Homo sapiens: one gene and its partners. The protein of the gene in region 1 interacts with the protein of each later gene in a pairwise test. Each region holds a gene or a part of one and is shown in the gene's direction. Other genes may lie near its edges. The genes, in order: BICD2, ZSCAN23, YES1 and DCX.

The links.
Region 2: the proteins of BICD2 (region 1) and ZSCAN23 interact in binary tests that used the Homo sapiens proteins (3 or more experiments, as listed by UniProt).
Region 3: the proteins of BICD2 (region 1) and YES1 interact in binary tests that used the Homo sapiens proteins (3 or more experiments, as listed by UniProt).
Region 4: the proteins of BICD2 (region 1) and DCX interact in binary tests that used the Homo sapiens proteins (3 or more experiments, as listed by UniProt).

Annotation. Positions count from the first base shown.
Region 1 is NC_000009.12:92,712,825-92,719,859, reverse strand, and holds part of BICD2 (protein bicaudal D homolog 2), read left to right. Parts: intron 1-277; coding exon 278-1,321; intron 1,322-1,911; coding exon 1,912-2,063; intron 2,064-4,396; coding exon 4,397-4,706; 3' UTR 4,707-6,398; coding exon of another isoform or gene 6,399-6,404; 3' UTR 6,405-7,035. UniProt on the Homo sapiens protein: Acts as an adapter protein linking the dynein motor complex to various cargos and converts dynein from a non-processive to a highly processive motor in the presence of dynactin.
Region 2 is NC_000006.12:28,433,489-28,440,523, reverse strand, and holds part of ZSCAN23 (zinc finger and SCAN domain-containing protein 23), read left to right. Parts: exon of another isoform or gene 1-449; intron 450-4,180; 5' UTR 4,181-4,257; coding exon 4,258-4,665; intron 4,666-4,916; coding exon 4,917-5,064; intron 5,065-5,445; coding exon 5,446-6,059; 3' UTR 6,060-7,035. UniProt on the Homo sapiens protein: May be involved in transcriptional regulation.
Region 3 is NC_000018.10:802,224-809,258, reverse strand, and holds part of YES1 (tyrosine-protein kinase Yes), read left to right. Parts: intron 1-7,035. UniProt on the Homo sapiens protein: Non-receptor protein tyrosine kinase that is involved in the regulation of cell growth and survival, apoptosis, cell-cell adhesion, cytoskeleton remodeling, and differentiation.
Region 4 is NC_000023.11:111,293,276-111,297,224, reverse strand, and holds the end of DCX (neuronal migration protein doublecortin), read left to right. Parts: 3' UTR 1-3,446; downstream 3,447-3,949. UniProt on the Homo sapiens protein: Microtubule-associated protein required for initial steps of neuronal dispersion and cortex lamination during cerebral cortex development. May act by competing with the putative neuronal protein kinase DCLK1 in binding to a target protein.

The DNA of each region.
Region 1 (7,035 bases):
TAGCCCAGATCCCCTGTAGCATGGTTGGGGAAAGAGCCTGCGTTGAGGGTGACCACCATTACTGGTGACGGTTAGTGTTCTGAGGGCCCAGCATGAATTCCATTCTTTCCACACCCTGTGTGTCTTTGTCCACCTCACTGACAGCATGGCCAAGGAACCTGGGGCTGACAGCCTGCCCTGACATGGGGTGGGATGTCACTAGGCCATCTTGGGGGTCCTCCAAGCTCTCGGGGTCCATAGCAACTGACATGGTGTCCTGCTGCCTGTGCCTTTGCAGATGGAGCGGGAAAAGGCGGGCCTGCTGGCAACGCTGCAGGACACACAGAAGCAGCTGGAGCACACGCGGGGCTCCCTGTCAGAACAGCAGGAGAAGGTGACCCGCCTCACAGAGAATCTGAGTGCCCTGCGGCGCCTGCAGGCCAGCAAGGAGCGGCAGACAGCCCTGGACAACGAGAAGGACCGTGACAGCCATGAGGATGGGGACTACTACGAGGTGGACATCAACGGGCCTGAGATCTTGGCCTGCAAGTACCATGTGGCTGTGGCTGAGGCTGGCGAGCTCCGCGAGCAGCTCAAGGCACTGCGCAGCACGCACGAGGCTCGTGAGGCCCAGCACGCCGAGGAGAAGGGCCGCTATGAGGCTGAGGGCCAGGCACTCACGGAGAAGGTCTCCCTGCTAGAGAAGGCCAGCCGCCAGGACCGCGAGCTGCTGGCCCGGCTGGAGAAGGAGCTAAAGAAGGTGAGCGACGTCGCCGGCGAGACACAGGGCAGCCTGAGTGTGGCCCAGGATGAGCTGGTGACCTTCAGTGAGGAGCTGGCCAATCTCTACCACCACGTGTGCATGTGCAACAATGAGACACCCAACCGTGTCATGCTGGACTACTACCGCGAGGGCCAGGGCGGGGCCGGCCGCACCAGTCCCGGGGGCCGCACCAGCCCCGAGGCGCGTGGCCGGCGCTCACCCATCCTCCTACCCAAGGGGCTGCTGGCTCCTGAGGCGGGCCGAGCAGATGGTGGGACGGGGGACAGCAGCCCCTCGCCTGGCTCCTCACTGCCATCACCCCTGAGTGACCCACGCCGGGAGCCCATGAACATCTACAACCTGATCGCTATCATCCGTGACCAGATCAAGCACCTGCAGGCAGCCGTGGACCGCACCACGGAGCTGTCACGCCAGCGCATTGCCTCTCAGGAGCTGGGCCCCGCCGTGGACAAGGACAAGGAAGCGCTTATGGAGGAGATCCTCAAGCTGAAGTCGCTGCTCAGCACCAAGCGGGAGCAGATCACCACGCTGCGCACTGTGCTCAAGGCCAACAAGCAGGTGAGGTGCCAGGCAGCAGGGGCACATGTCACCTACTACTGGCCTAAGGGTGTTTCCCCCTTGGCCTCCTTCCTCCCCCTGCCACGGGGCCCCCCCAGGCCTGCGTCACCACCAGACAGAGCCAGCCCCATAGTAGCTCGACTGCCTACCCTCCCCTGCTCAGGGCCCCCAGCTGGGAGGGTGGAGCAGGCAGGTGGGTGTGAGGGCCCCTCAGCAGAGCTGCTCAGCCAGTGAGAAATGCCGCTGCCCTTGACTCACTGTGACTGCCTCGTAGTGCTTCCTGATACTGGAGGGAAAACATGTGAGAGCCATAGTCTGAGCTGTGGAGAGCAATTGTGGGGCTTCGTGGAGGTCCTGTTGGCAGGTTTAGGGGCAGTCCCTCCTCTGCCAGTCAGAATCAGCAGGTGGGACTCCCCATGGCGTAGCTGCTGGAGTCCATCCCCAGGGTTTGTCACAGGGAGGGGCCTCCCAGGAGCTTTCTTCCCAGGCACTGCCACCACTTCAGACCGGGGCTCCCGATCCTGCTCCCAGAGCACCTCTAGGCTGACTTCACGCCTTTCACTTTTCCACCCTACACATCTGTCCCCCAGACGGCCGAGGTGGCCCTTGCCAACCTGAAGAGCAAGTATGAGAATGAGAAGGCCATGGTTACCGAGACCATGATGAAGCTGCGCAATGAGCTCAAGGCCCTCAAGGAGGACGCAGCCACCTTCTCCTCGCTGCGTGCTATGTTTGCCACCAGGTAACCGTGCTGCTGTCGGGCCCTCCCCTTCCACAAGGCCAGCTGTCCTCAGCACTTGCCTCTGGAACCCTTAGCCTCTCACTGCCTCATGCTGAGGCCTGCAGCCCTGACTAGTCAGTGGCTGTGCCCAGCTCCATCAGGGCCAGCATGGTACGAGGTTGGGGAAGCATGGCCCCTGGCACATCTCTGGCACACTGGTGCTCAAGTTGGTGACAAGAAAGGGTGAGGCGATATGGGGGCCACATGGGGTTGGGGGCCCCTAGCTGCTGCACCTCAGCTTCCTCCGAGGTCACGCAAGCAGTTGCTGGAGCATAGGGCATGCCTGGCAGGTGCCCACATGTGGCCGGGGATAGCAGAGCGTGTGTGATCCTTTTAATGTTCCTTTTGCACCTAGCCCAGCCCCCAGGAGCCTGGTTCTGTGGCGCCGGTTCCATTTTGCTGTGAATGAAACCGCAGCAGGCCCAGGCTTGTCTCTGCTTTGCATATATGGAGACTGAGGGCAGAAGGGCTGAGGAGAGCAGATCCTGGAGTGGATGGGCCAGAGTTGCATAGCTTCAGGGGATGCTTGGGCTCCCACCCCTTGAATCCAACATTTACAGGGACTTAACTTGGGGCCAACAGGTGACAGAGGAGTCCTGGCCTTTCCTCTCATGAGGTATTTGCCCCCAAGAACTTGGCCATATGGCACAAGTGTGTATTTATGTTTGTAGATTCAGAAGGAAGATTATCCTCCTGGCTGGAGCAGGTCACTGCTGGGGTCCACAGTTCGGGTCCCACCTCTGTGCATAGCCCTGTACCTCTGCGTCATTGTGACCGCTGGGTACTCACCTCCCATCCTCTACTTTGCCAATCTGGGGAGGGTGAGGAGAGGGCCGGGGCTTGGAGGAGACCAGCTTTCTTTCTTCCTCTGTGGAGGGCTCTTAGTAATGGGCTCTGAGGTGGGCTGCCCCTGGTGGGTGCACACCCCTCCCTGGCTGGGACTCAGACCCCAAGGCTGGGAATCGAGGCTCCCTAAGTGTTCACAGGCCTCTGTGGGGCAGGTCCTGGTTTCAGCATCTTCCCAGGTGCCCCCTGACAGGTACCGCTGTCTTTCACTTTCCAAAGATGGGTAGCGCCACCTGCTGGGTCATGTTGGGATAGCACCATGGGGTCAGCCCTGCATGGGGGACAGCCAGGCCCACCATGGGCCCAGCAGATAACCTAGATGTTTCCTTTTTATGGGTGAGCAAGCTGAGGATCTGAGCTGGACAGGGTGGGAACTGCATGCACATAGGGCCTGCTTCTCTCAAGCCTGGTGCCGTGCACTCCCAGTTTCTCAGTATCCCTGCAGGACGTGCCAGAGCAGGGTACAGACAAGGAAGAGTCCCAGGATTTCTCTGGAAGCGTCCTGTCTTCCTGGGGCTTGGGGAAAAAATCCCACAGTTTCTCAGTATCTGGCATGTAAACCCTACCTTTTAAAATTTGTTTTATTTAAAAACTTTTCAGATGGAGCCAAGATTTTGAATCTGCAGGGATCACAGCTCTGTGTGCCCTCAAAAGGGTGGGCAGCAGAGTCCTTGGAGAGGGTGCTATCCAAGGGCCGGCTCCTGGCAGGTGGGGACAGGCAGAGTAGGGTGCGTGTGGGCAGGGTGGGGCTGTGCTCAGTGCCTGCACAGCCTCACCGCCCTGGGAGCCCTGGGATTTAACCCGCCCTTTGTCTCTACCAAGCCCCACCCATATGGGACATGTGGAAGAAGGGCATCCAGGGACAGACCACACCCTCCCACAGCTCCGCACCCGGGTTTCAGGATGAAGCTGTTGATGGCGTCCACACACGTGGTTCCTTGGCTCTGGTCAGTGCTCAGCACAGACTGACGAAGCATCGACCTTGGGAACAAGCCCAGTCCTGCTTAGATTTACATCCACACCCTAGAAGCCATGGCTTCTCCATGTCTTGATGCCCCAGGCCACCTCGAGGCCTTTAAGCGGGGAGAGCGCCTCCTAGAAGAAGCCCAGTCGCTGAGGGGCATAGCCTGTTTGTAAGCACTACATGCAGCTGAAAGAGCAAAGCAGCCCCTCCCCCACAAAACCACAAAACTCAAGCCAGCCTCATAGGGCTGCCCTGCCTGGGCCCAAGCCTCCCTCTCACCCTTATCAGGGATTTGTCCAAGCAAAGCCTGTGCTAAAATAAGCCAGAATAATTCTTCCCCAGCCACACCCTCCAGTCCAGAGGCCACATTGAAGGATGGCTCTGGTATAGGGCTGTCAGAGGGCCGTGCAGCTTAGCCCTGCCCTGCCCTGCCCTCCTCTGCTCGGCTCTGCCCGCCCCTCAGTCATGTTTTTGGTACCCACAGGTGTGACGAGTACATTACACAGCTGGATGAGATGCAGCGGCAGCTGGCGGCTGCTGAGGACGAGAAGAAGACGCTGAACTCGCTGCTGCGCATGGCCATCCAGCAGAAGCTGGCGCTGACCCAGCGGCTGGAGCTGCTCGAGCTGGACCATGAGCAGACCCGGCGTGGCCGTGCCAAAGCCGCCCCGAAGACCAAGCCAGCCACACCGAGCGTAAGTCACACCTGTGCCTGTGCCAGCGACAGGGCCGAGGGCACCGGGCTGGCCAACCAGGTGTTCTGCAGCGAGAAGCACAGCATTTACTGTGATTAGGGGCTGTGGGGCGCCGCACGCTGCAGCTAACATCTGCTTCACCTCAACTAACCCAGCAGCAGCGGGACGGCGGTGCTAGGTCAATCTTAACGTGACTAATGCACAGAGGGTAGGAGTCTAGCCGAGGCGCCATGGGGCGTTGCATCAGCAGGACACTTGTGAGAGCTTTGTGTCGCTTCTCACTCCTCAAAGCCCCCTCAGGAGCACCCAGTCCTCAGCTGCTCTCTTAGGTGGGGGTCAGAGGTGGGGATAGAGCTGCACATTCTTGCAGCAGATGTGTGATGAAAGCATCTTCTAAGCCCTGCGCACCCGTGGGGAAACCCAAGGGAGGAGTCCTGGTCCTGCTCCCTCAGCACCCAAAAGGGGCAGAACCTGAGTTGAGACTTGCATGTTCCTCGCATGTGTCTAATGTCAGCACTAGAAAGCAGTTTTAGGAGGTTCCAGCCTGCAGCATAGGTACGACCTCAGAGGATGGCTTTGCACTTGGCATAGTTTCATGGAAAGGAGTACGTTGTAGTTTATGCAGTATCTGACTGCAAATCATATTCAGGAAAGAAGTGCAGAATTTCTTCCCCAAGCCCAGAGAAGAGCAGCCCTGAGCCCCTGTATTCTGCTGGCCAGACACACATGGCACAGACACAGCTGACCATAACCCAGGAATCCAGAGCTCGGTTTCTCATTTCTGAGATCAGGATGCTTGTATAGTGGCCTGTGAGGTGACAGATTGGCAGGGCCCAAGGCCCCAGGTTTTCATTTTTCATGAGAAAAGCTTTCCAAGTGCCTGGCCAGACCTTGGTCCTTAGTGCAGAGCCCGTCCTTTTGTACTTGGGGTGACCCCAGCAGCCAATTATCCGGCCTTCCATAGGGGGTTCAGTCCCAAAGACATGGGGCTTTGAAAACCCTAGCCTGAAGTCTGAGCCACCAAGGGCTTGGCTGGGTTGGACACCCACAGGTGTATCCAGAGCCCAGCCCGGTGCTGGGAAAGCTTTGCATAGGGCCAGGGCCACTTGTCAGGATTCACAGGTAGGAGATGTTTAGGTCTCTTTATTTAGTGCAATCTGGGGGATGGCAACAGAGAAAGAGGAAAGGTAGCTGTAGGGTTCTCCCATTTCCAGAGGCTCCATCCACACCTGCCTTCCCACATTCTGAGCAGAACTTTTCTCAGTACTTTTTTCCCGATCACCCTGTGGGACCAGCTGGACCTGAGGCTGCAGTCTTCTCTCCTGCAGGCTGCTTGCCTTGTCTCTCATGCGGAAGAGGCATTCGAGTTACCTGGTGAGAGACCGTGTTGCCCCCTCCCACAGCTCTCTGCCCTGCGCGTTCTTCCCTTTGGTGCCGAGTATGTTTCGGTCCCCTCCAGACTCCAGGACACGCCCATGTATGTCCCCTGCGTGTTCATCCTGGGCCCAGATCCCCCTGCCCCAGCAAGACTCGCAGTGGGATGGCTGCTGGCATGCCCACCCTGCATGCGCTTTGCCCTCTCCTTGCAAGCCTGGCACATAGCTTCTCTCCATACTCCTAAGGGACTTTGCAGACACCCAAGCCACTGGGACCCCTGCTAACACATGCAGGTCTTCTCTTCTGCCAACTAACGTGCTCGCGCCCTCCCAGCACGTGGAGAGCTTCAATTGTCAGATAAACAGGAAGCGACAGATGACCGCTTTCTAACGCTCTCTTTTCTCCCGTTTTCAGCTGTAGAGTAGCTGCCAGGAGGACTTGGCCACCCGGCCCTGTCACACTGCAGCCCCTTCCCCTTCCCTCTCGTGGCCCACAAGGAGGAAGGAAGGGCAACCTAAAAGCCCACTTAGAAACTTTTTGGATATGCCACTGCAATTCTTTTCAAAATAGCATTCCCCAGGTTTTTAATGGGAGGAAAAAAAGCTTTAATGTTGAGCATGCTGCGAGCTGCTGCGTGGAAAGGCCTCTGTATGGGCCGAAGACCCTTCTTCCCTGGCTGCCAGGCTCGCCAGGAGCCCACTGGAAACGCCCACCACGGGGGCTCCTTGTTACACATGTTCTTTTTTTATCCGATCAACCTGTGCACTTTTGATATTTTGATATTATATTTGCTTCCTTAATTCCTCGCGTAGAGACGGTCTCAGGTGCCGTGGTCTATGCTCGTGGTCCTGTAGCTGTCCGCCTCAGCTCCCACCGTGTTTGTCTGGTGTCAGCACGAGGCAGAGCTGTGTGCTCCATAGCGTGTAGCTTTAGACTCGGAGATGAGTGCTTTGACCCAGCGAGGAGCTCAGCTAAGTGTATCCACGCTGTGGTTCAGCAGCCTTTAGATCATACGGCATTGTGGTTCATGTTTGAAATTACAGATTTTAAA
Region 2 (7,035 bases), on another chromosome or scaffold:
TTCTACCACAAAACTTTCTTACCCTAGAACCAATTCAGCAGATCATGTTTCAAGCCATGATGATCTCTTCCCTGGATGATTATCATAGCATCCCTCTCTGCCTCCACTTAACCCCAAGGTCATTGACACAGCGGCTAGAGTTATGCTTTTGTGTTAAATGGAAGTAAAATTTTGTTACCCCTTGGCTCAAAAATCCCCAGTGGTTTCCATATCTCATAGAATACAAGTTAGAGCCCTTACCACTGCCTTTCATGATCAGTTCCCAAGCTCCCTGCTTTATCTCCTGTTACTTTCCCTTTTGTTTTCTTTGTTCCAGCCATTGTTCAACTAGCTATTACCTGAAGAATCCAGGTGTGTTCCCACCTGCAAAAATTTGCACTTGGCAGTTACCTTTGCATGGAACAGTCTTTCTCCAGATAGCCATGTGACTTGCTCCTCACTTCCTTCAGGTCTGTTCAACCATTACCTTATCAAGGCCTTCCCTGACTCTATAAAATAGCAACCTTTCTTTCCCCTTACTCTCTCTCTCCTTACCTTTATTTTCTCTATAGCATTTATCACTACTTCACAAATACTTAATTATTATCTGTTTCCTCTGACCCGTTTTCCTCATCCTGGCCCCTCTTTTCCCCAACAGAAGTTAGTGTTGTAGCAGTGGAGACTGTAAATTCTGATGTCAGATTTGTTGGGTTTGAATTGCAGCTTCACTGCTTACTATCTGTAACTGACTTGAACTTTGGACTAGTAACTTAAACTTTTCATATCTCAGTTTTCTCATCTGTGATATGGGGGTAATAATAGCACCTTATTCATGGTTGTTTTGAGGATTAAATGGGTTAATATATATAAAGCATCTGTAACAATACCTGGCACGTTAAAAGCACTATAAATGTCCGCTATTATTAATACTGTTATTAGGATGTAAATTCCATGAGACTAGGGACTTCGTTATAATTGCAGCTGTATCCCCAGTGCCTAGAACAGTACATGGAATATGGTAGGCTCTGAATATATATTTGCTGGTAGGCTCTGAATAAATATCTGCCAAGTGAATGAATGGTGTATGAAAAGTTATGACAGAAAAAGATAGTATGGTAGTCACAGTGGTGGTGAGTCGCACCAAGAAAAGTGGAGGAAGGCTGGGCGTGGTGGCTCACACCTGTAATCCCAGCAGTTTGGGAGGCTGAGGCAGGCAGATCACGAGGTCAGGAGTTCGAAACCAGCCTGGCCAACATGGTGAAACCCTGTCTCTACCAAAAAAATACAAAAATTAGCTAGGCATGGTAGCGGGTGCCTGTAATCCCAGCTACTCAGGAGGCTGAGGGGAGAATCATTTGAACCTGGGAAGCAGTGAGCTGAGATCGTGCTGTTGCACTCCAGCCTGGGCGACAGGGTGAGATTCCGTCTCAAAAAAAAAAAAAGTGGGGGAAAACATGAATTTGCAGATTCTGTCTTTAGAGGAAAAAAATCCTCTGTACATTTCCTGGGGTAGTGATTACAGAAGGTAACCAAACCAAAGATGTCAGAACTTTATGGAGAGGATTATGTGTGCAGGTTATCCGGAAGGATGCTGTCCCATGCCAGTAGTTTGTTTCCCCTTTGATAAATATAACCAATAATCACAATATGAATCTAATTTTTCTTCGGGTTGTAATGTGATCAGTGTTCACTTGTAATTTAAATACCTGATATGGTTTGGCTGTGTCCCCATCCAAATCTCATCTTGAATTATAGTTCCCAATTTCTCATAATCCCCATGTGTCGTGGGAGGGACCCGGTAGGAGACAATTTAATTATGGGGGCAGGTACCTTCATGCTATTCTGGTGACAGTGCGTTCTCATGAGATCTGACGGTTTTATAAGGGGCTTTTCCCCCTTTTGCTCGGCACTTCTCCTGCTGCTGCATGTGAAGAAGGACATGTTTGCTTCCCCTTCCACCATGATTGTAAGTTTCCTGAGGCCTCCCCAGCCATGCTGAACTGTGGGTCAATTAAACCTCTTTCCTTTATAAATTACCCAGTCTTGGGTATGTCTTTAGTAGCAGCTTGAGAACAGACTAATAAAATACCCTATTCTTAGTTATTTAATTTCACAATGCATGTCAACACCTTAAGAATAGTGTAGGGTTGCTGGGCGCGGTGGCTAATGCCTGTAATCCCAGCACATTGGGAGGCCAAGGCGGGTGGATCATCTGCGGTCAGGAGTTCGAGACCAGCCTGGCCAACATGGTACAACCCTGTCTCTACTAAAAATACAAAAATTAGCCTGGCATGGTAGTGGGTGCCTGTAATACCAGCTACTCAGGAGGCTGAGGCAGGAGAATTGCTTGAACCCAGGAGGCGGAGGTTGCAGTGAGCTGAGATTGTGCCACTGTACTCCAGCCTGGGCAACAGAGCAAGACTCCTTCTCAAAAAAACAAAAACAAAAACAAAAAACAACAAACAGAATAGAGTAGGGTTATTTTTGCAATGGATTACAACAATTTTACTTAAAACAAAAATATTTTATTCTACAGGTTATTATTCATTTGTGGGTCATAAAATCTATGTGGTGTGTCACAACCCACCACATAGATTTTATAACCCACAAAATCTGTTCCCAGGCTTTTTTGTTTTGTCTTTTAATGAAATAGGTTTAAAAATAATTGTATGTCACTATATAGAGCAAGGATACATAGTGTTTTGTGAAATTATTATTTTAGGTATTTGTGTATCTCATAAATGCACAAACATATATACATATGCATGTGTGTTCTGGGTTATAATATAAAATATTTCTTAATAAGAGTCCTGGTCAAAAAAGTTTGAAAGTCTCTACTCGAAGATGGTGCTTAGAAATCACTGGGTCATATAATTGTTTTTCTTTCAGAAAATTTTCTTCATTAATTACTATCCTGGTAAAGATTGCTCATAAGTTTGTTTGTTTTTGTTTTTGTTTTTTTGAGACAGAGTCTTGCTCTGTCGCCCAGGCTAGAGTGCAGTAGTGTGATCTCAGTCCACTGCAACCTCTGCCTCCCGGGTTCAAGCGATTCTCCAGCCTCAGCCTCCTGAGTAGCTGGGATAACAGGCGTGTGCCACCAAGCCCAGCTAATTTTTGTATTTTTTAGCAGAGACGGGGTTTCATCATGTTGGCCAGGCTATTCTCGAACTCCTGACCTCAGGAGTCATAGACATTTGTCTTTTTATTAGCAGTAATTTTATTTTACATAAAATTGCCTACTCTCCACCTTCAAGTAGCTTCAAAGAGAAAAAGTTTCAAAGAAATTAAAGGGCAAGAGAAAGGTCAAATTCTACTCCTGTTTTAAAGTACTGGAACCAATATTTCCGTCATTTTAGTATCTCTGAGCCTAGACCACTGCAGTCAACTACTTTCTGATTCTTTTGCCTTAGCCTTAAACCACTAGGATATTCATTTAATCATACAATAACATAAGAAAAATAAGTGTTACCACTTTGGAGTTTACTAAGTAGCCAACTTCTTTGTGCTCATTATCCTCGTTTTATCTTTGTATCAACCTAGAAAGATAGGCAGTGTTGGTTTTAGGATTCCTGTTTTATAGATTGAAGAGACCAAGGCTCAAAACATGAAGCCCAAGACTCTGGAGGGAATACCTGCAGGTTGATGTCTCAGTCCAAGACCTTACACACTTTAAACCTAGATCTCCCTCCTCCATACCTCCTATGGCTGGAGGGACTCTACCTTCTATGGCTGGAGGGACTCTGCCTCCTCTCTCCAAGTGCATTTCTTACGGTTCTTATTCTTTTTATATTCTTTACTTTCCCTCCATCCTCCATTTGTTTCCCTTTTCTTCTTGATTCTTGGTGTCATCTGTGACCACTTGGGCCCAAAGTGTTTTTTTACCTTCATACAGCTAAAATTTACCCTGAATTTAGTATCTTGCTATTCAAATGGAAACCCAATATACTCAAGCTGATTTGAGCTGTTTCGGTCAGGATGATTGAAACAGTACCTTCCTTCAGAAAACTGTAGGCGTTTTTGTTCCATTTCTTTTTTCTTCCTATATTATCTGGATTTGTATTTCTAAAGTATCTATCATTAATCAGGTTTTGGTGTTCCTTCATGAGACAGAGTGACTGATTTTAGTGTAAATACTCCAGTCCCTCCTTGTCCTGAGGTTTTCTGCATTTTTATATTTTTTTCTTCGTAAATTATTGTCTAGATCTCGGGGTTTCCAGAAGAAAAGATCAAGGGAGAATTATCAAGAATAGATTATTTTTCTGAATAGTTAAACCTTTGATGGCCATAACCTTGACCCTTCAGACTGCAGAGATGCAGGAAGGACTTCTGGCAGTGAAGGTAAAGGAGGAAGAGGAGGAACATTCCTGTGGGCCAGAATCAGGCCTGTCAAGAAATAACCCTCATACCAGAGAGATCTTTCGTAGACGCTTCAGGCAGTTCTGCTATCAGGAGTCCCCTGGGCCCCGGGAGGCTCTTCAAAGACTCCAGGAGCTCTGCCATCAGTGGCTGAGACCAGAGATGCACACCAAGGAGCAGATCCTAGAGCTGCTGGTGCTGGAGCAGTTCCTGACTATCCTGCCTGAGGAGCTCCAGGCCTGGGTCAGACAGCACCGTCCTGTGAGTGGAGAGGAGGCAGTGACTGTGCTGGAGGATTTGGAGAGAGAGCTGGATGACCCAGGAGAGCAGGTGAGAAGATGGGAGAACAGGGATTTGTACCTATAAGAACAAGTATGGGGTTTCAGTGCAACAAGAAAAGGTAGAGGAGGAGGATTTTTTTTTTATGCCAGACTTGATCTTCTGTAGGCTTTTAGTCTCTCTGCCTCTGTTTTTTCTTTGCCAGCTTCTTGGTCCTTCTTTTCTATCCAGCGGCCCTGAGGAGGCCTCCTTGCCATGTTCTCTCTGATATTGGGTTCCCAACTGTCCTTGATTTCCACCAGGTCCTGAGCCATGCTCATGAACAGGAAGAGTTTGTAAAGGAGAAGGCAACTCCAGGAGCAGCTCAGGAGTCATCAAATGACCAATTCCAAACCTTGGAAGAGCAACTTGGGTATAATTTGCGAGAGGTGTGCCCAGTTCAAGAGATTGGTGAGGATCAGGATTTCCTCAGACAGCCTACCTCATTCCCTGAATATTTATCAATTCAACCCATTTATTTAGTGTCTGCTGTATGCCAGGCACTGTGCCAGGTACCAGGGATACAGTGATAAACAAGGCAGATGTGGTCCCCACTCTCACGAAGTTTACAGTCTAGTGGGAGAGGCAGACAATTAAGTAAGCAGTTATAATACCATGCATCTTTTCCCTGAGGTCTGGGTATAATAGCTTTAGAGTGGAAAAATAAACAGAAAAAGTGGCTACTTGTCCCCTTCCACCCATTCTCCTGGCCACTTTTTTTCTTTTGTCTTTGGAAAGATAATCTGTTATTTTTCATACTTCATGTTATCTTTCATGTTATCGTTATTTTAGATGGCAAGGCTGGGACTTGGAATGTGGAGTTAGCCCCAAAGAGGGAGATTTCTCAGGAAGTGAAATCTCTTATACAAGTTCTTGGAAAACAGAATGGTAATATTACTCAGATTCCTGAGTATGGAGATACCTGTGACCGTGAGGGCAGATTGGAAAAGCAAAGGGTGAGCTCTTCAGTGGAGAGACCCTATATCTGTAGTGAATGTGGAAAAAGCTTCACCCAGAATTCCATCCTTATCGAGCACCAGAGAACACACACAGGTGAGAAGCCTTATGAATGTGATGAGTGTGGGCGGGCCTTCAGCCAGAGGTCAGGCCTATTCCAGCACCAGAGACTCCACACTGGGGAGAAGCGCTACCAGTGCAGTGTTTGTGGCAAAGCCTTCAGCCAGAATGCCGGGCTTTTCCATCACCTCAGAATTCACACTGGGGAGAAGCCTTACCAGTGCAATCAGTGCAATAAGAGTTTTAGTCGACGTTCAGTCCTCATTAAGCATCAGAGAATTCACACTGGAGAGAGACCTTATGAATGTGAAGAATGTGGCAAGAACTTCATTTACCATTGCAACCTAATCCAGCATCGGAAAGTCCACCCAGTGGCTGAATCAAGCTAGCTCCTTGGAACAGGTAGGGGATAATATTTCTTACTTTGTCCCTGCTGTGTCCTCTAGCATAGAAAAGTTCAAGGGAAAGCCAGTAAAAATTCCCTTACTTTTATGCAGAGAGAAGCATAATATCTTAAATACATCTGCCGAGTTCTCTGATCAGTGACATCCACAGCTTTGCAATACTGAATGTTGCCTCTTGTGTTGATTTCATCATGTATGCTGTAGACCTAGTTTCACACACATCTGTGCAAGAAGTTTTCTATTTCAGGAAAACTTCTTCATCCTAGTTTTTAAAAACTTTTTTTAAAAGTTTAAAATAGTTATATGTAGGCTGAGTACAAAATAATCTCAAATGCAGTTCACCGAGTATTTAAAAATTAACTTAAAAATAATTGTAATAAAATTCATAATATAGGTTTCCTGACTTCTTTCCATTCACATAAAATATGATAATTTGTTTTGTAACCTACAAAAAGGGGCAGATGAATCCTCCTATATAAATGTAGATTTATAGTAAGTTAGATTTCTATAGATTTTTTAGTTAGCCTTTAGGAACCAAGGAACTGAAGCAGCCATATGTTATTAGCAGCTCAGTGGCTCCTCATAACAAATATTGCTCATGATTTTAAATTTACGCAGAGGCTAAGAAACTTAGCTAAAAATCTGATATCTCACCTCAGATTTCTTATTGGAAAATACAGGCCTCTTTGTATTTTTCCCGTAACATATAATGAGCATTTTTTTGTTTTTGCCTTTTTCTCCTTTATTCAATATTTTGTATGGAAAATTTGAAACATATTCAAGATTGAAGAGAAGAGTATGATCACTCTTTCATGTTGATTGTTTTTATAACCTCCACATTTTCTCAGCATTTACTATTGATTACCACCAAGATCATAAATAAAAAAATTTATTTCCCTTAACATTGACTTAGTAACTCTTTACAAAGCTTTACACAAGGTCCAGGAGACAAAGAAATGGA
Region 3 (7,035 bases), on another chromosome or scaffold:
TCTAAATAAAGTTCTAGTTCGTTTTCTTTAATAACTTAATTGTTTTAATATTTTCACAGAAGACACAGGTTTTACAAAATTAAAATCCGCTTCGGCTTGTATGTTGTAAATAACCAATAGAAGATAATCAAAATGTTTATTGAACGAATGGATACTGTTCTGTCATCAAATACTCTGTTTTTCTGAAAATTACATAACATGACAATTAAAACTCAAAACTCAATTACGGCATCAAGATCCTAAGTTTTGACTTTTATCTATTTTCGGTTTTCTAGAACAGTAATTCTTTAGATCAGTAATTTCAGCCTTAGTTTTTCTATTCTTAAGAATGCCATGAAATCTCAGCATAAAATAAGTTTTTGTTTAAAGTTTATGAAGATTCACAGCACCTGAAGGATGAATATGTTTTGGTTCAAAAGGCAAATGACAATATGGTGTTGGAGTTTCAGAAATGCAGAGAATCATTGGGTCATGCTATTTTATTTGCTTTATGTAATGGCTTGCTATTTTAGTGGTTGATATTGTGGCTTTGCATTGTTGTAGAGTTGAAGAAGAGATCTCATCTGTGCCAAATTTTTATATCACAGGAACTTTCAGTCATGTTATAAAGGTGATGTTTGTGGTGCACGCTTTGTTGTGTGAATATTTACAGGAAGTTTTAGTAAGATCTTCCATTGTTTAGAACCCTACATGGCTTAGGTCACCTTCAGTTCACATTTAAACAGTTTTATAATATAAGTCCTATAGCGAGGCACAACTGCTTTTCTTTAAAGGAAATAATCTGTTTCTATTAAAGTGTCTTGTCTTATTGGTAGTTCGTGTATGGCTATGGTAGGGTATGTATTATCTCTTTTCTTCCTCTCAGCTGCTCCAGTGCCACAATTAGGCTGAGTATTGCTCAGCTGCAGCTGCTGGGTGATTACTAACCATCCAGCTCCTGTCTAAACTCAGAGGCAGATTTAGCAAAAGGAGCTATAGTAACAGTAGAGGGTGAAAGAGAAGAGCCAGTGCTGCCGCCAATATCGTTTTCACATGTCTGTATGCCAAGGAATCGTTGGCTGCAGCAGCACTACTGTTGTCTTGGAACTAGCAGACTTGATGGCAATATATCCTGGTCTGCGTTGGGTTTACCTTTAAGATCTGAAAGCCCACTCCAGGAAAGACAGAGAATCCTGTAATTTTAGAGTATAGAATAATGTACTGTTGAGGTACTAATGGACTGAGTTACAAGCCTCTGTGCCTCAACTCCTTTTCCCCCCCAAATCTAGGGTAGCAATGCCCTTCAGTTTCTCTTGTTCAAATGTACAGTAAGCTGTGAGACTGCAGGTTCCTTGAAGCATTATACTTCATTTCACTTTAAGCTGTGATTCTTAGAATTGCTTCTTTTATTGTTGTTTAGGGGAGGGGAGTAGAATTGCTGGCATATAGGTTCTTTGGACTCTACTTTCTCCTAGGAAGTGGAAGGCCTTCAAGAGGGATAACTTCTAGAATTAGCTATACATTGCATATCCGTGGTGGCTGCCTGAATTTTGCTAGTAGGAACTCTGCATTCTTTTCCTTTTGTTCTTTCTTTATCCCTGGCGTTTGAGAAGATGGACATCAACAGTTGCAAATACGTTATCAGCTATATATGGCAATCCCCAGACTGGAAGATGCCATAGGCAAATTTTGCTGCTTCTAAAATGCTGCTCAGCTTATAAATATGCCAAGCAAATAGCAGCAGTCGCATCTTTTGTGTTTTTGTGTTTTGCTTTGTTTTTGAGACAGGATCTTGCTCTGTTGCCCAGACTGGAGTGCAGTGGTGCAGTCACAGCTCACCGCAGCCTTGACCTCTGGGGCCCAAGGGATCCTCCCACTTTAGCCTCCTGAGTAGCTCGGACCACAGGTGTGCACCACCATGCCTGGCTAATTTTTTTTTTTTTTTTTTGATGAAGTATCACTCTACTGCCCAGGCTGGTGTGCAATGGCACGATCTTGGCTCACTGCAACCTCTGCCTCCCAGGTTCAAGTGATTCTCCTGCCTCAGCCTCCCGAGTAGCTGGGATTGCAAGCGTGCACCACCACGCCCGGCTAATTTTTGTACTTTTAGTAGAGACAGGGTTTCACCATGTTGGCCAGACTGGAGCATGCCTGGCTAATTTTTGAATTTTTTGGAGAGATGGGGTCTCACCGTGTTGTCCAGGCTGGTCTCAAATTCTTAGGCTCCAGCAGTCCACCTGCCTGGGCCTCCCGAAATGCTGGGATTACAGGCCACCACACCCAGCCACAGCAGCGTCTTGTCCTTACTTTTACCACTACTATCTACTGAAAATCTGGAGATATTCCTTTGACTTATCTTGTCTTTGGAATTTGGTAGTTTGGGGTTTGGCATTTGGGATGGAGATTAGAGAGGATTGAGAAAAGTAGTGCTCAAACTTGTATAACCAGAGGAAGGATGAGGTACAGTTAGACCATGCATTTGAACAGTAAGAAGTACACATCATTATGGCATATACTTAGCAAGAGATTGGTGTTATGACCTCTTTGTGCTCCCACAAAACACTTATGTCAAAACACACCTCTCCTTGCACTGTAATTATTTCTTTCCATGCTTGTCTGTTATTCTTGACCTAGTATTCACTGTGTCAAGGAACTGTTTTATAGCAATCTTTGAGAACAGCCCTTAGCACAATAAATACTAAATAAATTCTGAATTGTATGTAGGGATGTGGTTCTGGGCAGATTTATATGAATTACAGCTATGGACTTTTCGCAAACAAAACAAATCTTTTGAGTACACCTCTACTAAAATGTTATAAAACTAGCTTAATACTTTTTCATAGCTCGAAGTTAATTCTTTAGATTTTTGCTCTCAAGGTTTTGTTCTAGAAGGTGATTTTACAAAATAGCTTAAGCAGTCCTTCAAATATGAATTTAAAGGTCATTTTGATATTTCTAATATGAACTGAAAATTCATTGTAGTTGAAGTTAAACTAGTCTCTAGTAAGGTTTATTTTAAATAAATACGTTGTACTATTTTAGTGAAGAAAGTCCAAGTTATGCTGAAGAAAAATCCTAGATTTTTAAAAAATGCATTTGGTATCTCATCACAGTAGTGACAATCAGTATTACAATTATGACTTGTTCATATATACCTAGGACAAAAAGAAAAAGAAGTCCTGATTTTCTTGCAGTAATGTGTGTGAAGGAATGCATAATTCATAGGTGTACTTTTGCTGGGTTATTGGGGGTGAGGACGGAACAGGAAGTGCTAGGAGGAAAAGTACTGACCCCTGAAACTTCAAGATTGTCTGGTTTTCAGCCTCTATTCCCAGCAAAATGTGGATTCTAGGTTTTCTTCAACTGACTTAAGAGGATTTTCACTTCTCTAATTTTTTAATGTAACTTTTCAGTTTCTTAGCATTAAGTAGAAATTGGGGTGAGGTGAGGAAGTTGGTGGTGGTTGTGTATAAGTTAATACTTCACATTGTTTCCTGGCGAATGTATTGACTTCTAACTTTTGTTCTGATGTGATTAATATTTTACAGATAAGGATACTTTAAAAATAATAGCAGCCAGACATTTGGAAGGAGCAGAGAAGGCAATATGGTGTTATAAGGAAAGGACTGGAAGGTAGAGCACTAACACTATCTAGATTTTAGTTTCATTTCTGACAGTGAAGAGCTGTTTAGCCTTGGTCGATTCAGTAAACTCCCTAGGCGTTAGTTTTGCAATTTGAAACAAAAGGTAGTTGGGCCTCATGGTTTCTAATAGTTTCTCAGCTTTATATATAAATGTGTGCTCTGCCGCAGTTGAAGTTGTTACAATATAGTCATGCTCTGCCTAAGGAAGTTTCAATGATGGTGATCCTGTAAGATTATAGTAGAGCTGCCCTATATAGGTGTACCATTTTTTATTTTTTTATACTGTGTAATTACTGTATCTCTTCTACATTTAGTTATGTTTAAATACACAAATACTGTTACAGTTGCCTGCAGTATTCTGTACAGTTGTGTGCTGTACAGGTTTGTAGCCTGAGAGAAATAGGCCATACTATATGGCCCAAGGTTGTAGTCAGCTATACCACGTAGGTTTGTGTAAGTACACTCTAGAGTGTTCACATAATGTCAGAATTGCCTAATGAGGCATTTCTCAGAATATATGTTAAGTGATGCATGACCGTATTGATAAAATTTTAAGGAAATGTTTGAGTCTAAAATTTGGAATCACATTAGATATAAGTAAAGATTATAAAAAACTGACCCATGGACTTGACACGGAACTTTCTCAAGCAAATTGCAGTTCTACTAATTAAGCAAACATTTATACTACTATGCTAGGTTTTTGGTTTGTGTTTTTTTTTTTTGAGTCAGAGTCTCACTCTGTCGCCCAGGCTGGAGTGCAGTGGCTTGATCTCAGCTCACTACAACCTCAGCCTCCTGGGTTCAAGTGATTCTCCTGCCTCAGCCTCCCAAGTAGCTGGGATTACAGGCGTGTGCCACCACACCCGGCTAATTTTTGTGTTTTTAGTAGAGAATGGGATTTCTCCATGTTGGTCAGGCTGGTCTCCAACTCCCTATCTCAGGTGATCCGCCCGCCTTGGCCTCCCAAAGTGCCAGGCTTACAGGTGTGAGCCACCTCAGCTGGCCTTTTTTTTTTTTTTTTTTTTTGAGACTCAGTCTCACTCTATTGCCCAGGCTGGAGTGCAGTGGTGCAATCTCGGCTCACTGCAACCTCTGCCTCCCGGGTTCAAGCAATTCTCCCTGCCTCAGCCTCCTCAGTAGCTGGGATTACAGGTGTGTGCCACCACACCCAGCTAATTTTCTTATTTTTAGTAGAGATGGGGGTTTCACCATGTTGGCCAGGCTGGTCTCGAACTCCTGACCTCAGGTGATCTGCCTGCCTTGGCCTCCCAAAGTATTGGGATTACAGGCGTGAGCCACTGTGCCTAGCCCAGATTTTTTCGTAATAAAATTAGAAAAATGACTTAATTATTCTGTTGAAGTGGATAGTTATGATGTCAGTTAACAAGTAATCGTGGCTATTTGAATAAAAACTTTGCAACATTATATGAGAAAAATAGCCACTATCATCAAAATTTACATTTAATTTTTTTAATTGACAAAGGTATGGACAACTTGTTCTGGATATTTGTCTTTATACACATACAGTTAATATTTAGAACAAGACAAGCATGGCATTGGAAAATGGTTAGCCTTTTAAGGTTTGTAAAATAGATTTTCTAAAACAAAGAAACTAAAATTACAGTGTTCTGAAAGTTTGTAAGTTGATGTTTTGAAAATTAGAATCTGTTTTTCCAGGAAGTCTTTTCTGTAACATAAGCCTTTTGGCCTGATTTCTAGGCAGCCCGTTGGAGTCTTATAAAAGCCTCACAAATAGGTAAAATAATACTTTGGTGGTAAAATATTTTCTGACTGATTATCAGTTTTTGCCTGGTTTTTGTTAACTGCTGAGCTCTTTGAACAAATAAAATATTTGGCCTACAAGTGCTCTGATTATGAGGTGGGTGAACCTGTAGCCTTGCCAGTCACCCTCCTTTCCCACCTTACCAGCTCCTCACTATTTAAAAATCACTGTTTTGAGTTCCCTGTTAGGAGACTCAGATTCTCCCAATAAGGCATTGCTATTAAGCTTAATTTAAGTACAGAAACTTCCCTAGGTTTCCCCACCTGCTTGCTAGTGGCAGTGAAACCTGCCTCATACTCTAACCCTATAGGACAGTATGAGGTATAGAAAAGCTTCAAAAGATTGGGGGTAATAAACAAAAATAGTAGAAAAGGGTTTGGGAAAATGAGGAGTGTTACAATATGGAGTTTGTAACTTCTTTACCTTCTCTGTGCTTTTTTTATTTCCCACCCATTCACCTCACTTTGGCATTGGGTAGGGAAAGAAGAAAGCCTGTCCTATGATAGGTGCTATGCCATACTTTTATATGCATTATCACATTTGACTTGAATCTTTGAAATGTGTTTCCAAAATACACAGAAAAATTAGGAATGAGATGGGTATTTATTTTTTGTTTTTGAGACGGAGTCTCACTCTGACACCCAGGCTGGAATGAAGTGGCAAAACCTTGGCTCACTGCAACTTCTGCCTCCCAGGTTCAAGTGATCCTCCCACCTTGGTCTCTGAGTAGCTGCTGGGACCACAGTTGTGAGCCACCATGCCCAGCTAATTTTTTTTTTAATTTTTAAAATTCAAAATTTCTCACCATGTTGCTCAGACTGATCTTAAACCCCCTAGGCTCAAGGGATCCTCCCGCCTCGGCCTCCCAAAGTGCTGGGAAAACAGGTGTGAGCCACCATGCCCAGCCTGTTTTTTATTTTTATTTTTTTTTAGAATAGAGACAGGGTTTCACCTTGTTGCCCAGGCTGTCTCGAACTCCTGGGCTCAAGCGATCCACTTGCCTCAACCTCCCGAAGTGCTAGGATTATAGGTGTGAGCCACTGTGCTGGGCCCCTTGAGGTAGGTATTTATTACAGATAAAGAAACTGAGAATCAGAAAGTATATATAATTTGCTAAGGTCACACAACCGGCAGAACTGGGATTTAAACCTAGGGCTGACTACAAGCCTGTTCCATATGCCATAACTTTCTTAGGAATGAGGAGCAATGATGGAAAGGGAGATTTCTTGTCTTTTTTCTTCTTCATTAAATAGTACATTTGAATTGCTGGCAGAGAATGTTCAATTAATACTTTTTTTTTTTTTTTTTGAGATGGAGTTTCACTCTTGTTGCCCAGGCTGGGGTGCAATAGTGTGGTCTCCGCTCACTGCAACCTCTGCCTCCCAGGTTCAAGCGATTCTTCTGCCTCAGCCTCCTGAGTAGCTGGGATTACAAGCGTGCACCACCTTGCCTGGCTAATTTTTTGTATTTTTAGTCAGGCTGGTCTGGAACTCCCGACCTCAGGTGATCCACCTGCCTTGGCCTCCCAGAGTGCTGGGATTACAGGCATGAGCCACCACGCCTGGCAATACTTTCTAATTATTTTATTTTCTTTCTTTTTTAAGAGAGATGGTCTTGCTGTGTTTGCCC
Region 4 (3,949 bases), on another chromosome or scaffold:
CGACTTCTTTTATGGTTGTCCAGTTTGCTATGGAAATAAAAGGCATTGATTTTTTAAAAAGATGATTGGAACCTGTCTTTGGCCACATAGGGCCACTTGGATCCATTTCCAGGCCTTACTCATATATTGCCTTCACTGAAGGGCTTTGGCTTTAAGTCCCAGACTGGTCTCCCAAGTGAACCATAAGTGTTTTGGAGCTCATCTGGGGTGAGGCATGAGAATGTTGCCCCATCTATCCCTTCAGGAAAAGGTGCCTTCCCTCCCTTTCTCCTAAAGCCTGGTCCCCAGAAATTGTTTTTGTCTCCAAAAGTCTAGTATGGTCTTTATACACCCAGACTCTTAGTGTTGCGTCCTGCCTTGTTTCCTTGTTAAGGATCTATGCAGACCTCCCGCTTTGGCTTAGCTAGCGTGACATTGGCTATCATTTGACAAGACTAACTTTTTTTTTTTTTTTTTTTTGACTGAGTCTCCCTCTGTCACCTAGGCTGGAGTGCAGTGGCACAATCTTGGCTCGCTGCAACCTTCACCCTTCACCTCCCAGGTCGAAGCGATTCTCCTGCCTCAGTCTCCCGAGTAGCTGGGATTACAGGCGTGCGCCACCAAATCTGGCTATTTTTTTATTATTATTATTTTTAGTAGAGATGGGGTTTCACCATGTTGGCCAGACTGGTCTTGAACTCTTGGCCTCAAATTATCTGCCCACCTCGGCCTCCCAAAGTGCTGGGATTACAGGCATGAGCCACCATGCCCAGCTGACAAGACTAATTTTTTATCCCTTGGTTTATTGGCTTCAACATCTTCTGGAATCAGAGGTGATTTTTTCTTACCTTGGATGCCTGAGACTAGGGGAGTATAGAATTCCAATTGGTAATTAAGGCATCTTTCTGCTCCTGATCAGAAGGGCAGGTTAGTTGGGAGAGGTCAGATGGCACAACAGAAGTCACCTTGTAAGTAAGGCAAAGACTTGAAGGCATTAGCGTTTCTCATTACTAGGTCAATAACCTGAGGGAATCAATGGCTTTTTGCCGCTCTACCTCTTGTGTATCTCTTTGACTTTTCTTTCTCTGTCTAGTTTCCTCTGTTCTCAGTTTATATTCTATGTTATCAGTCTCTCTTTCCACAGTACAAACATCCATCCTTTCTCCTGTGCAATTCTGTCTCTCCCTCTTATTATCTTTATTTGTACTTTTTCCTTCCTCCCTGTCTAGGCATTGGGCATGTGCCTCTTCTTAGCCTGTGATTTTGCCTTGGGACTGATGATAAATTATTTCCAGATTCAATCAGCCCTGGTCCTACCCCAGTCCAATCAGAAGTATGTTGGTGGGAATCAACCTGATCCTGGCCCTTTCTTCTTCTCCATTTTCATTCGTAATCCCCCTCAGCAGATCTTTACAAGCAGTTTCCTTATAGCTCATGTATCTTTAGGTCTTTGCCTTCCAAGCACTGTACAGAATACTTTGTGGTTCCTTTTTAGTCTGACATTTTGTGGAGCAGTGAAGCGTGCTCAGAGACATAATCAGCTGAAGAGAAAAAATCCACCCATGGATTTATATCAGCTAAATACTAATAATTGATTTTGTTTGATGTGCCCATAATTTTTAAAGCTGCAATATAATATAATGAGGGACCACAGGTAATTTCTCCTGTCATTTGTTTTGGCTGGATGGGGGTGGGGGAGTAATTGCTTAAAGTTTTACCATTACACATTAAACTCTCTATAATAATCTTGTTTGGGGCTTGCTAACTGTTGAGCTGTTTTAACTAAACTGGTAGGCAATCGGAGTTGATTTAAATGAAAAGATAATTTAACAAATCTATACTATAAAAAGAGACATTTGCTTAATTGACATGTATTTTTTCCTTCTGAGTCACCTAAACATTTACTCTTGACACCAACTGTTCATGATACTGAATAGACAGTCCATATAAGAGAAATTAGTGGACCTAAAGAAGCCAGATTGTAGGTGTTAATTTATTAAACAGAGTGCAAAGCCCTTGGAAATGTCACTGCTTGGCAATACCATATGGAATGCCAAAATTTACAATGACTTTTCTTTATAAGTTATCCAAAAGGGATTTGAACAAGTAAGAGGTTATGCCAAAATGTCTCCAATGTATGGTCCTGTAATATATTGCAGCTTGAAGCCAATGATCCCTTATGACTTGTATACAACTAATGCATGTTTTATTGAATTTTGCATTTCCCACGTGTGGTAAGTTCTTTAAAATGTTTTTGATCACCTTTTTGTGCCATTAAACTTGTACAGAAAATGTTTTTATGGCCATTTTCAAAGGGAGAAAGTTTAAAATGGAAACAGCCCACCCTTTCTGCCCTATAGCTGTAGTTAGAATTGAGTACCTGTAGCAAAACAGCTGTAATTGGTGGTTGTAGTGTTAGAGGTGTTAGCTTGCTAGTGACTAGCTTTGGAGAGTAAATGCATGGTATTGTACATCACATTTCTTAACTCGTTTTAACCTCTGAAAAGAATATATTCTTCTTTGTAGTCCTTCTTCCCACCCCCTTGCCCTCTCCCTCTCCCTGCTCCCAGTTGTCTTACAGTTGTAAATATCTGATTTGAGGCCCAATAACTCTTGCCAAGTAAAGTCAGCAAACAACAAACAAACCAAAATGTGGGGAAAAGGCATTTCTCAACCATCTCTCAGCAGTTATTGATCATTTCTTAAGGAACAGCATTGTGATCAAAGACTCAACTTTACGTAAAAATCAGTGGTAAATTGGGGTTGTATTTGGCCATTTGATTACATTTCAGGATTGAATAGTTTTCAGAATCACATGTAATCCAAAGACAGTAGGTAGTGATGTCCCTTATCCCTGCAGCTGTTTTAAGATAGAGACCTCAGAAGACTCTGCTTGACCGATGACCAATAATTATTTGAAAAAAAAAGAAAAAATGAGAGAAATAAAACAGATATTTAAGAACTTTAGCCACCTATTTAGAATAGTTATAGCCAGAAAAAAAAACAAGGGCATGAGTTCAAATGCATTACTATCAGTGTCCTAGGCAATACCTAACCTACTCTGAAATTGTGATTCAAAAGCAGTATTTCAAGAGGCATTCTCCTTTTTTGGTTTGCTGACCCCACTTGGACTGGTAGGTTTGGTGAGGCCCCCATAAACCAGCTGGAGCAGACCCTTTTCATCTCCTGTGCCTGTAACACCCCTCTTCCCCCACCCCCTCCGCAATTCAATGAGGGCTTTCTTGGGTCAGAGGACTTCAAGGTTGTCTAGAGAAGTTTGCCATGTGTGTAAGGTGCTGTGAACTGTGAGTGCTGAAGATTCGCAGCATTCAATACCAGGCAGCCAAAGAGCTGCTCTTGCAATTATTTTGGCTCTCAAGCTCTGTTCTTCATCGCATTCTCATTTCTGTGTACATTTGCAAGATGTGTGTAATGTCATTTTCCAAAAATAAAATTTGATTTCAATATTTCTGGCTGACATTCTTTTAAAAACAAAAACAAAAACAAAAAACACTGAACCAATAATCATATAACCTCAAAATGTCCAAGCTGGCAGGGAACTTAGATATTATTTTTTCCAACCTCTTAATTTTATAGAAGAAGAAGCTGAGAGTAAATGTATGATAGAAACACCATAATTATTGGTACAGCACATTTACAAAAAATAAGATCTCAGATCTCCCCCCAGAGTTGAGCAGGAATAAAGTGACCTCCTTTTATGCATAAGATGCTTTGGCCAATGTCAGCCTGTGTCATCAGGTGGTGACTTCTAGTACCATGTTTTCAGAAGCCCAAGAAACACTCCATGCCCCCCAAAATACCTCTACCTGCTGCTTGCAATTTCTTTTACAGTGTGGCTATTCTTCTTCAATAGGCTGATGGTGCAGCTACTCTCTGTGAGAGGAAACACGGAGATATCTTATTTACCCTCAGACGTAAATGACTGATGACATAGTTTTCTCAGATCAGG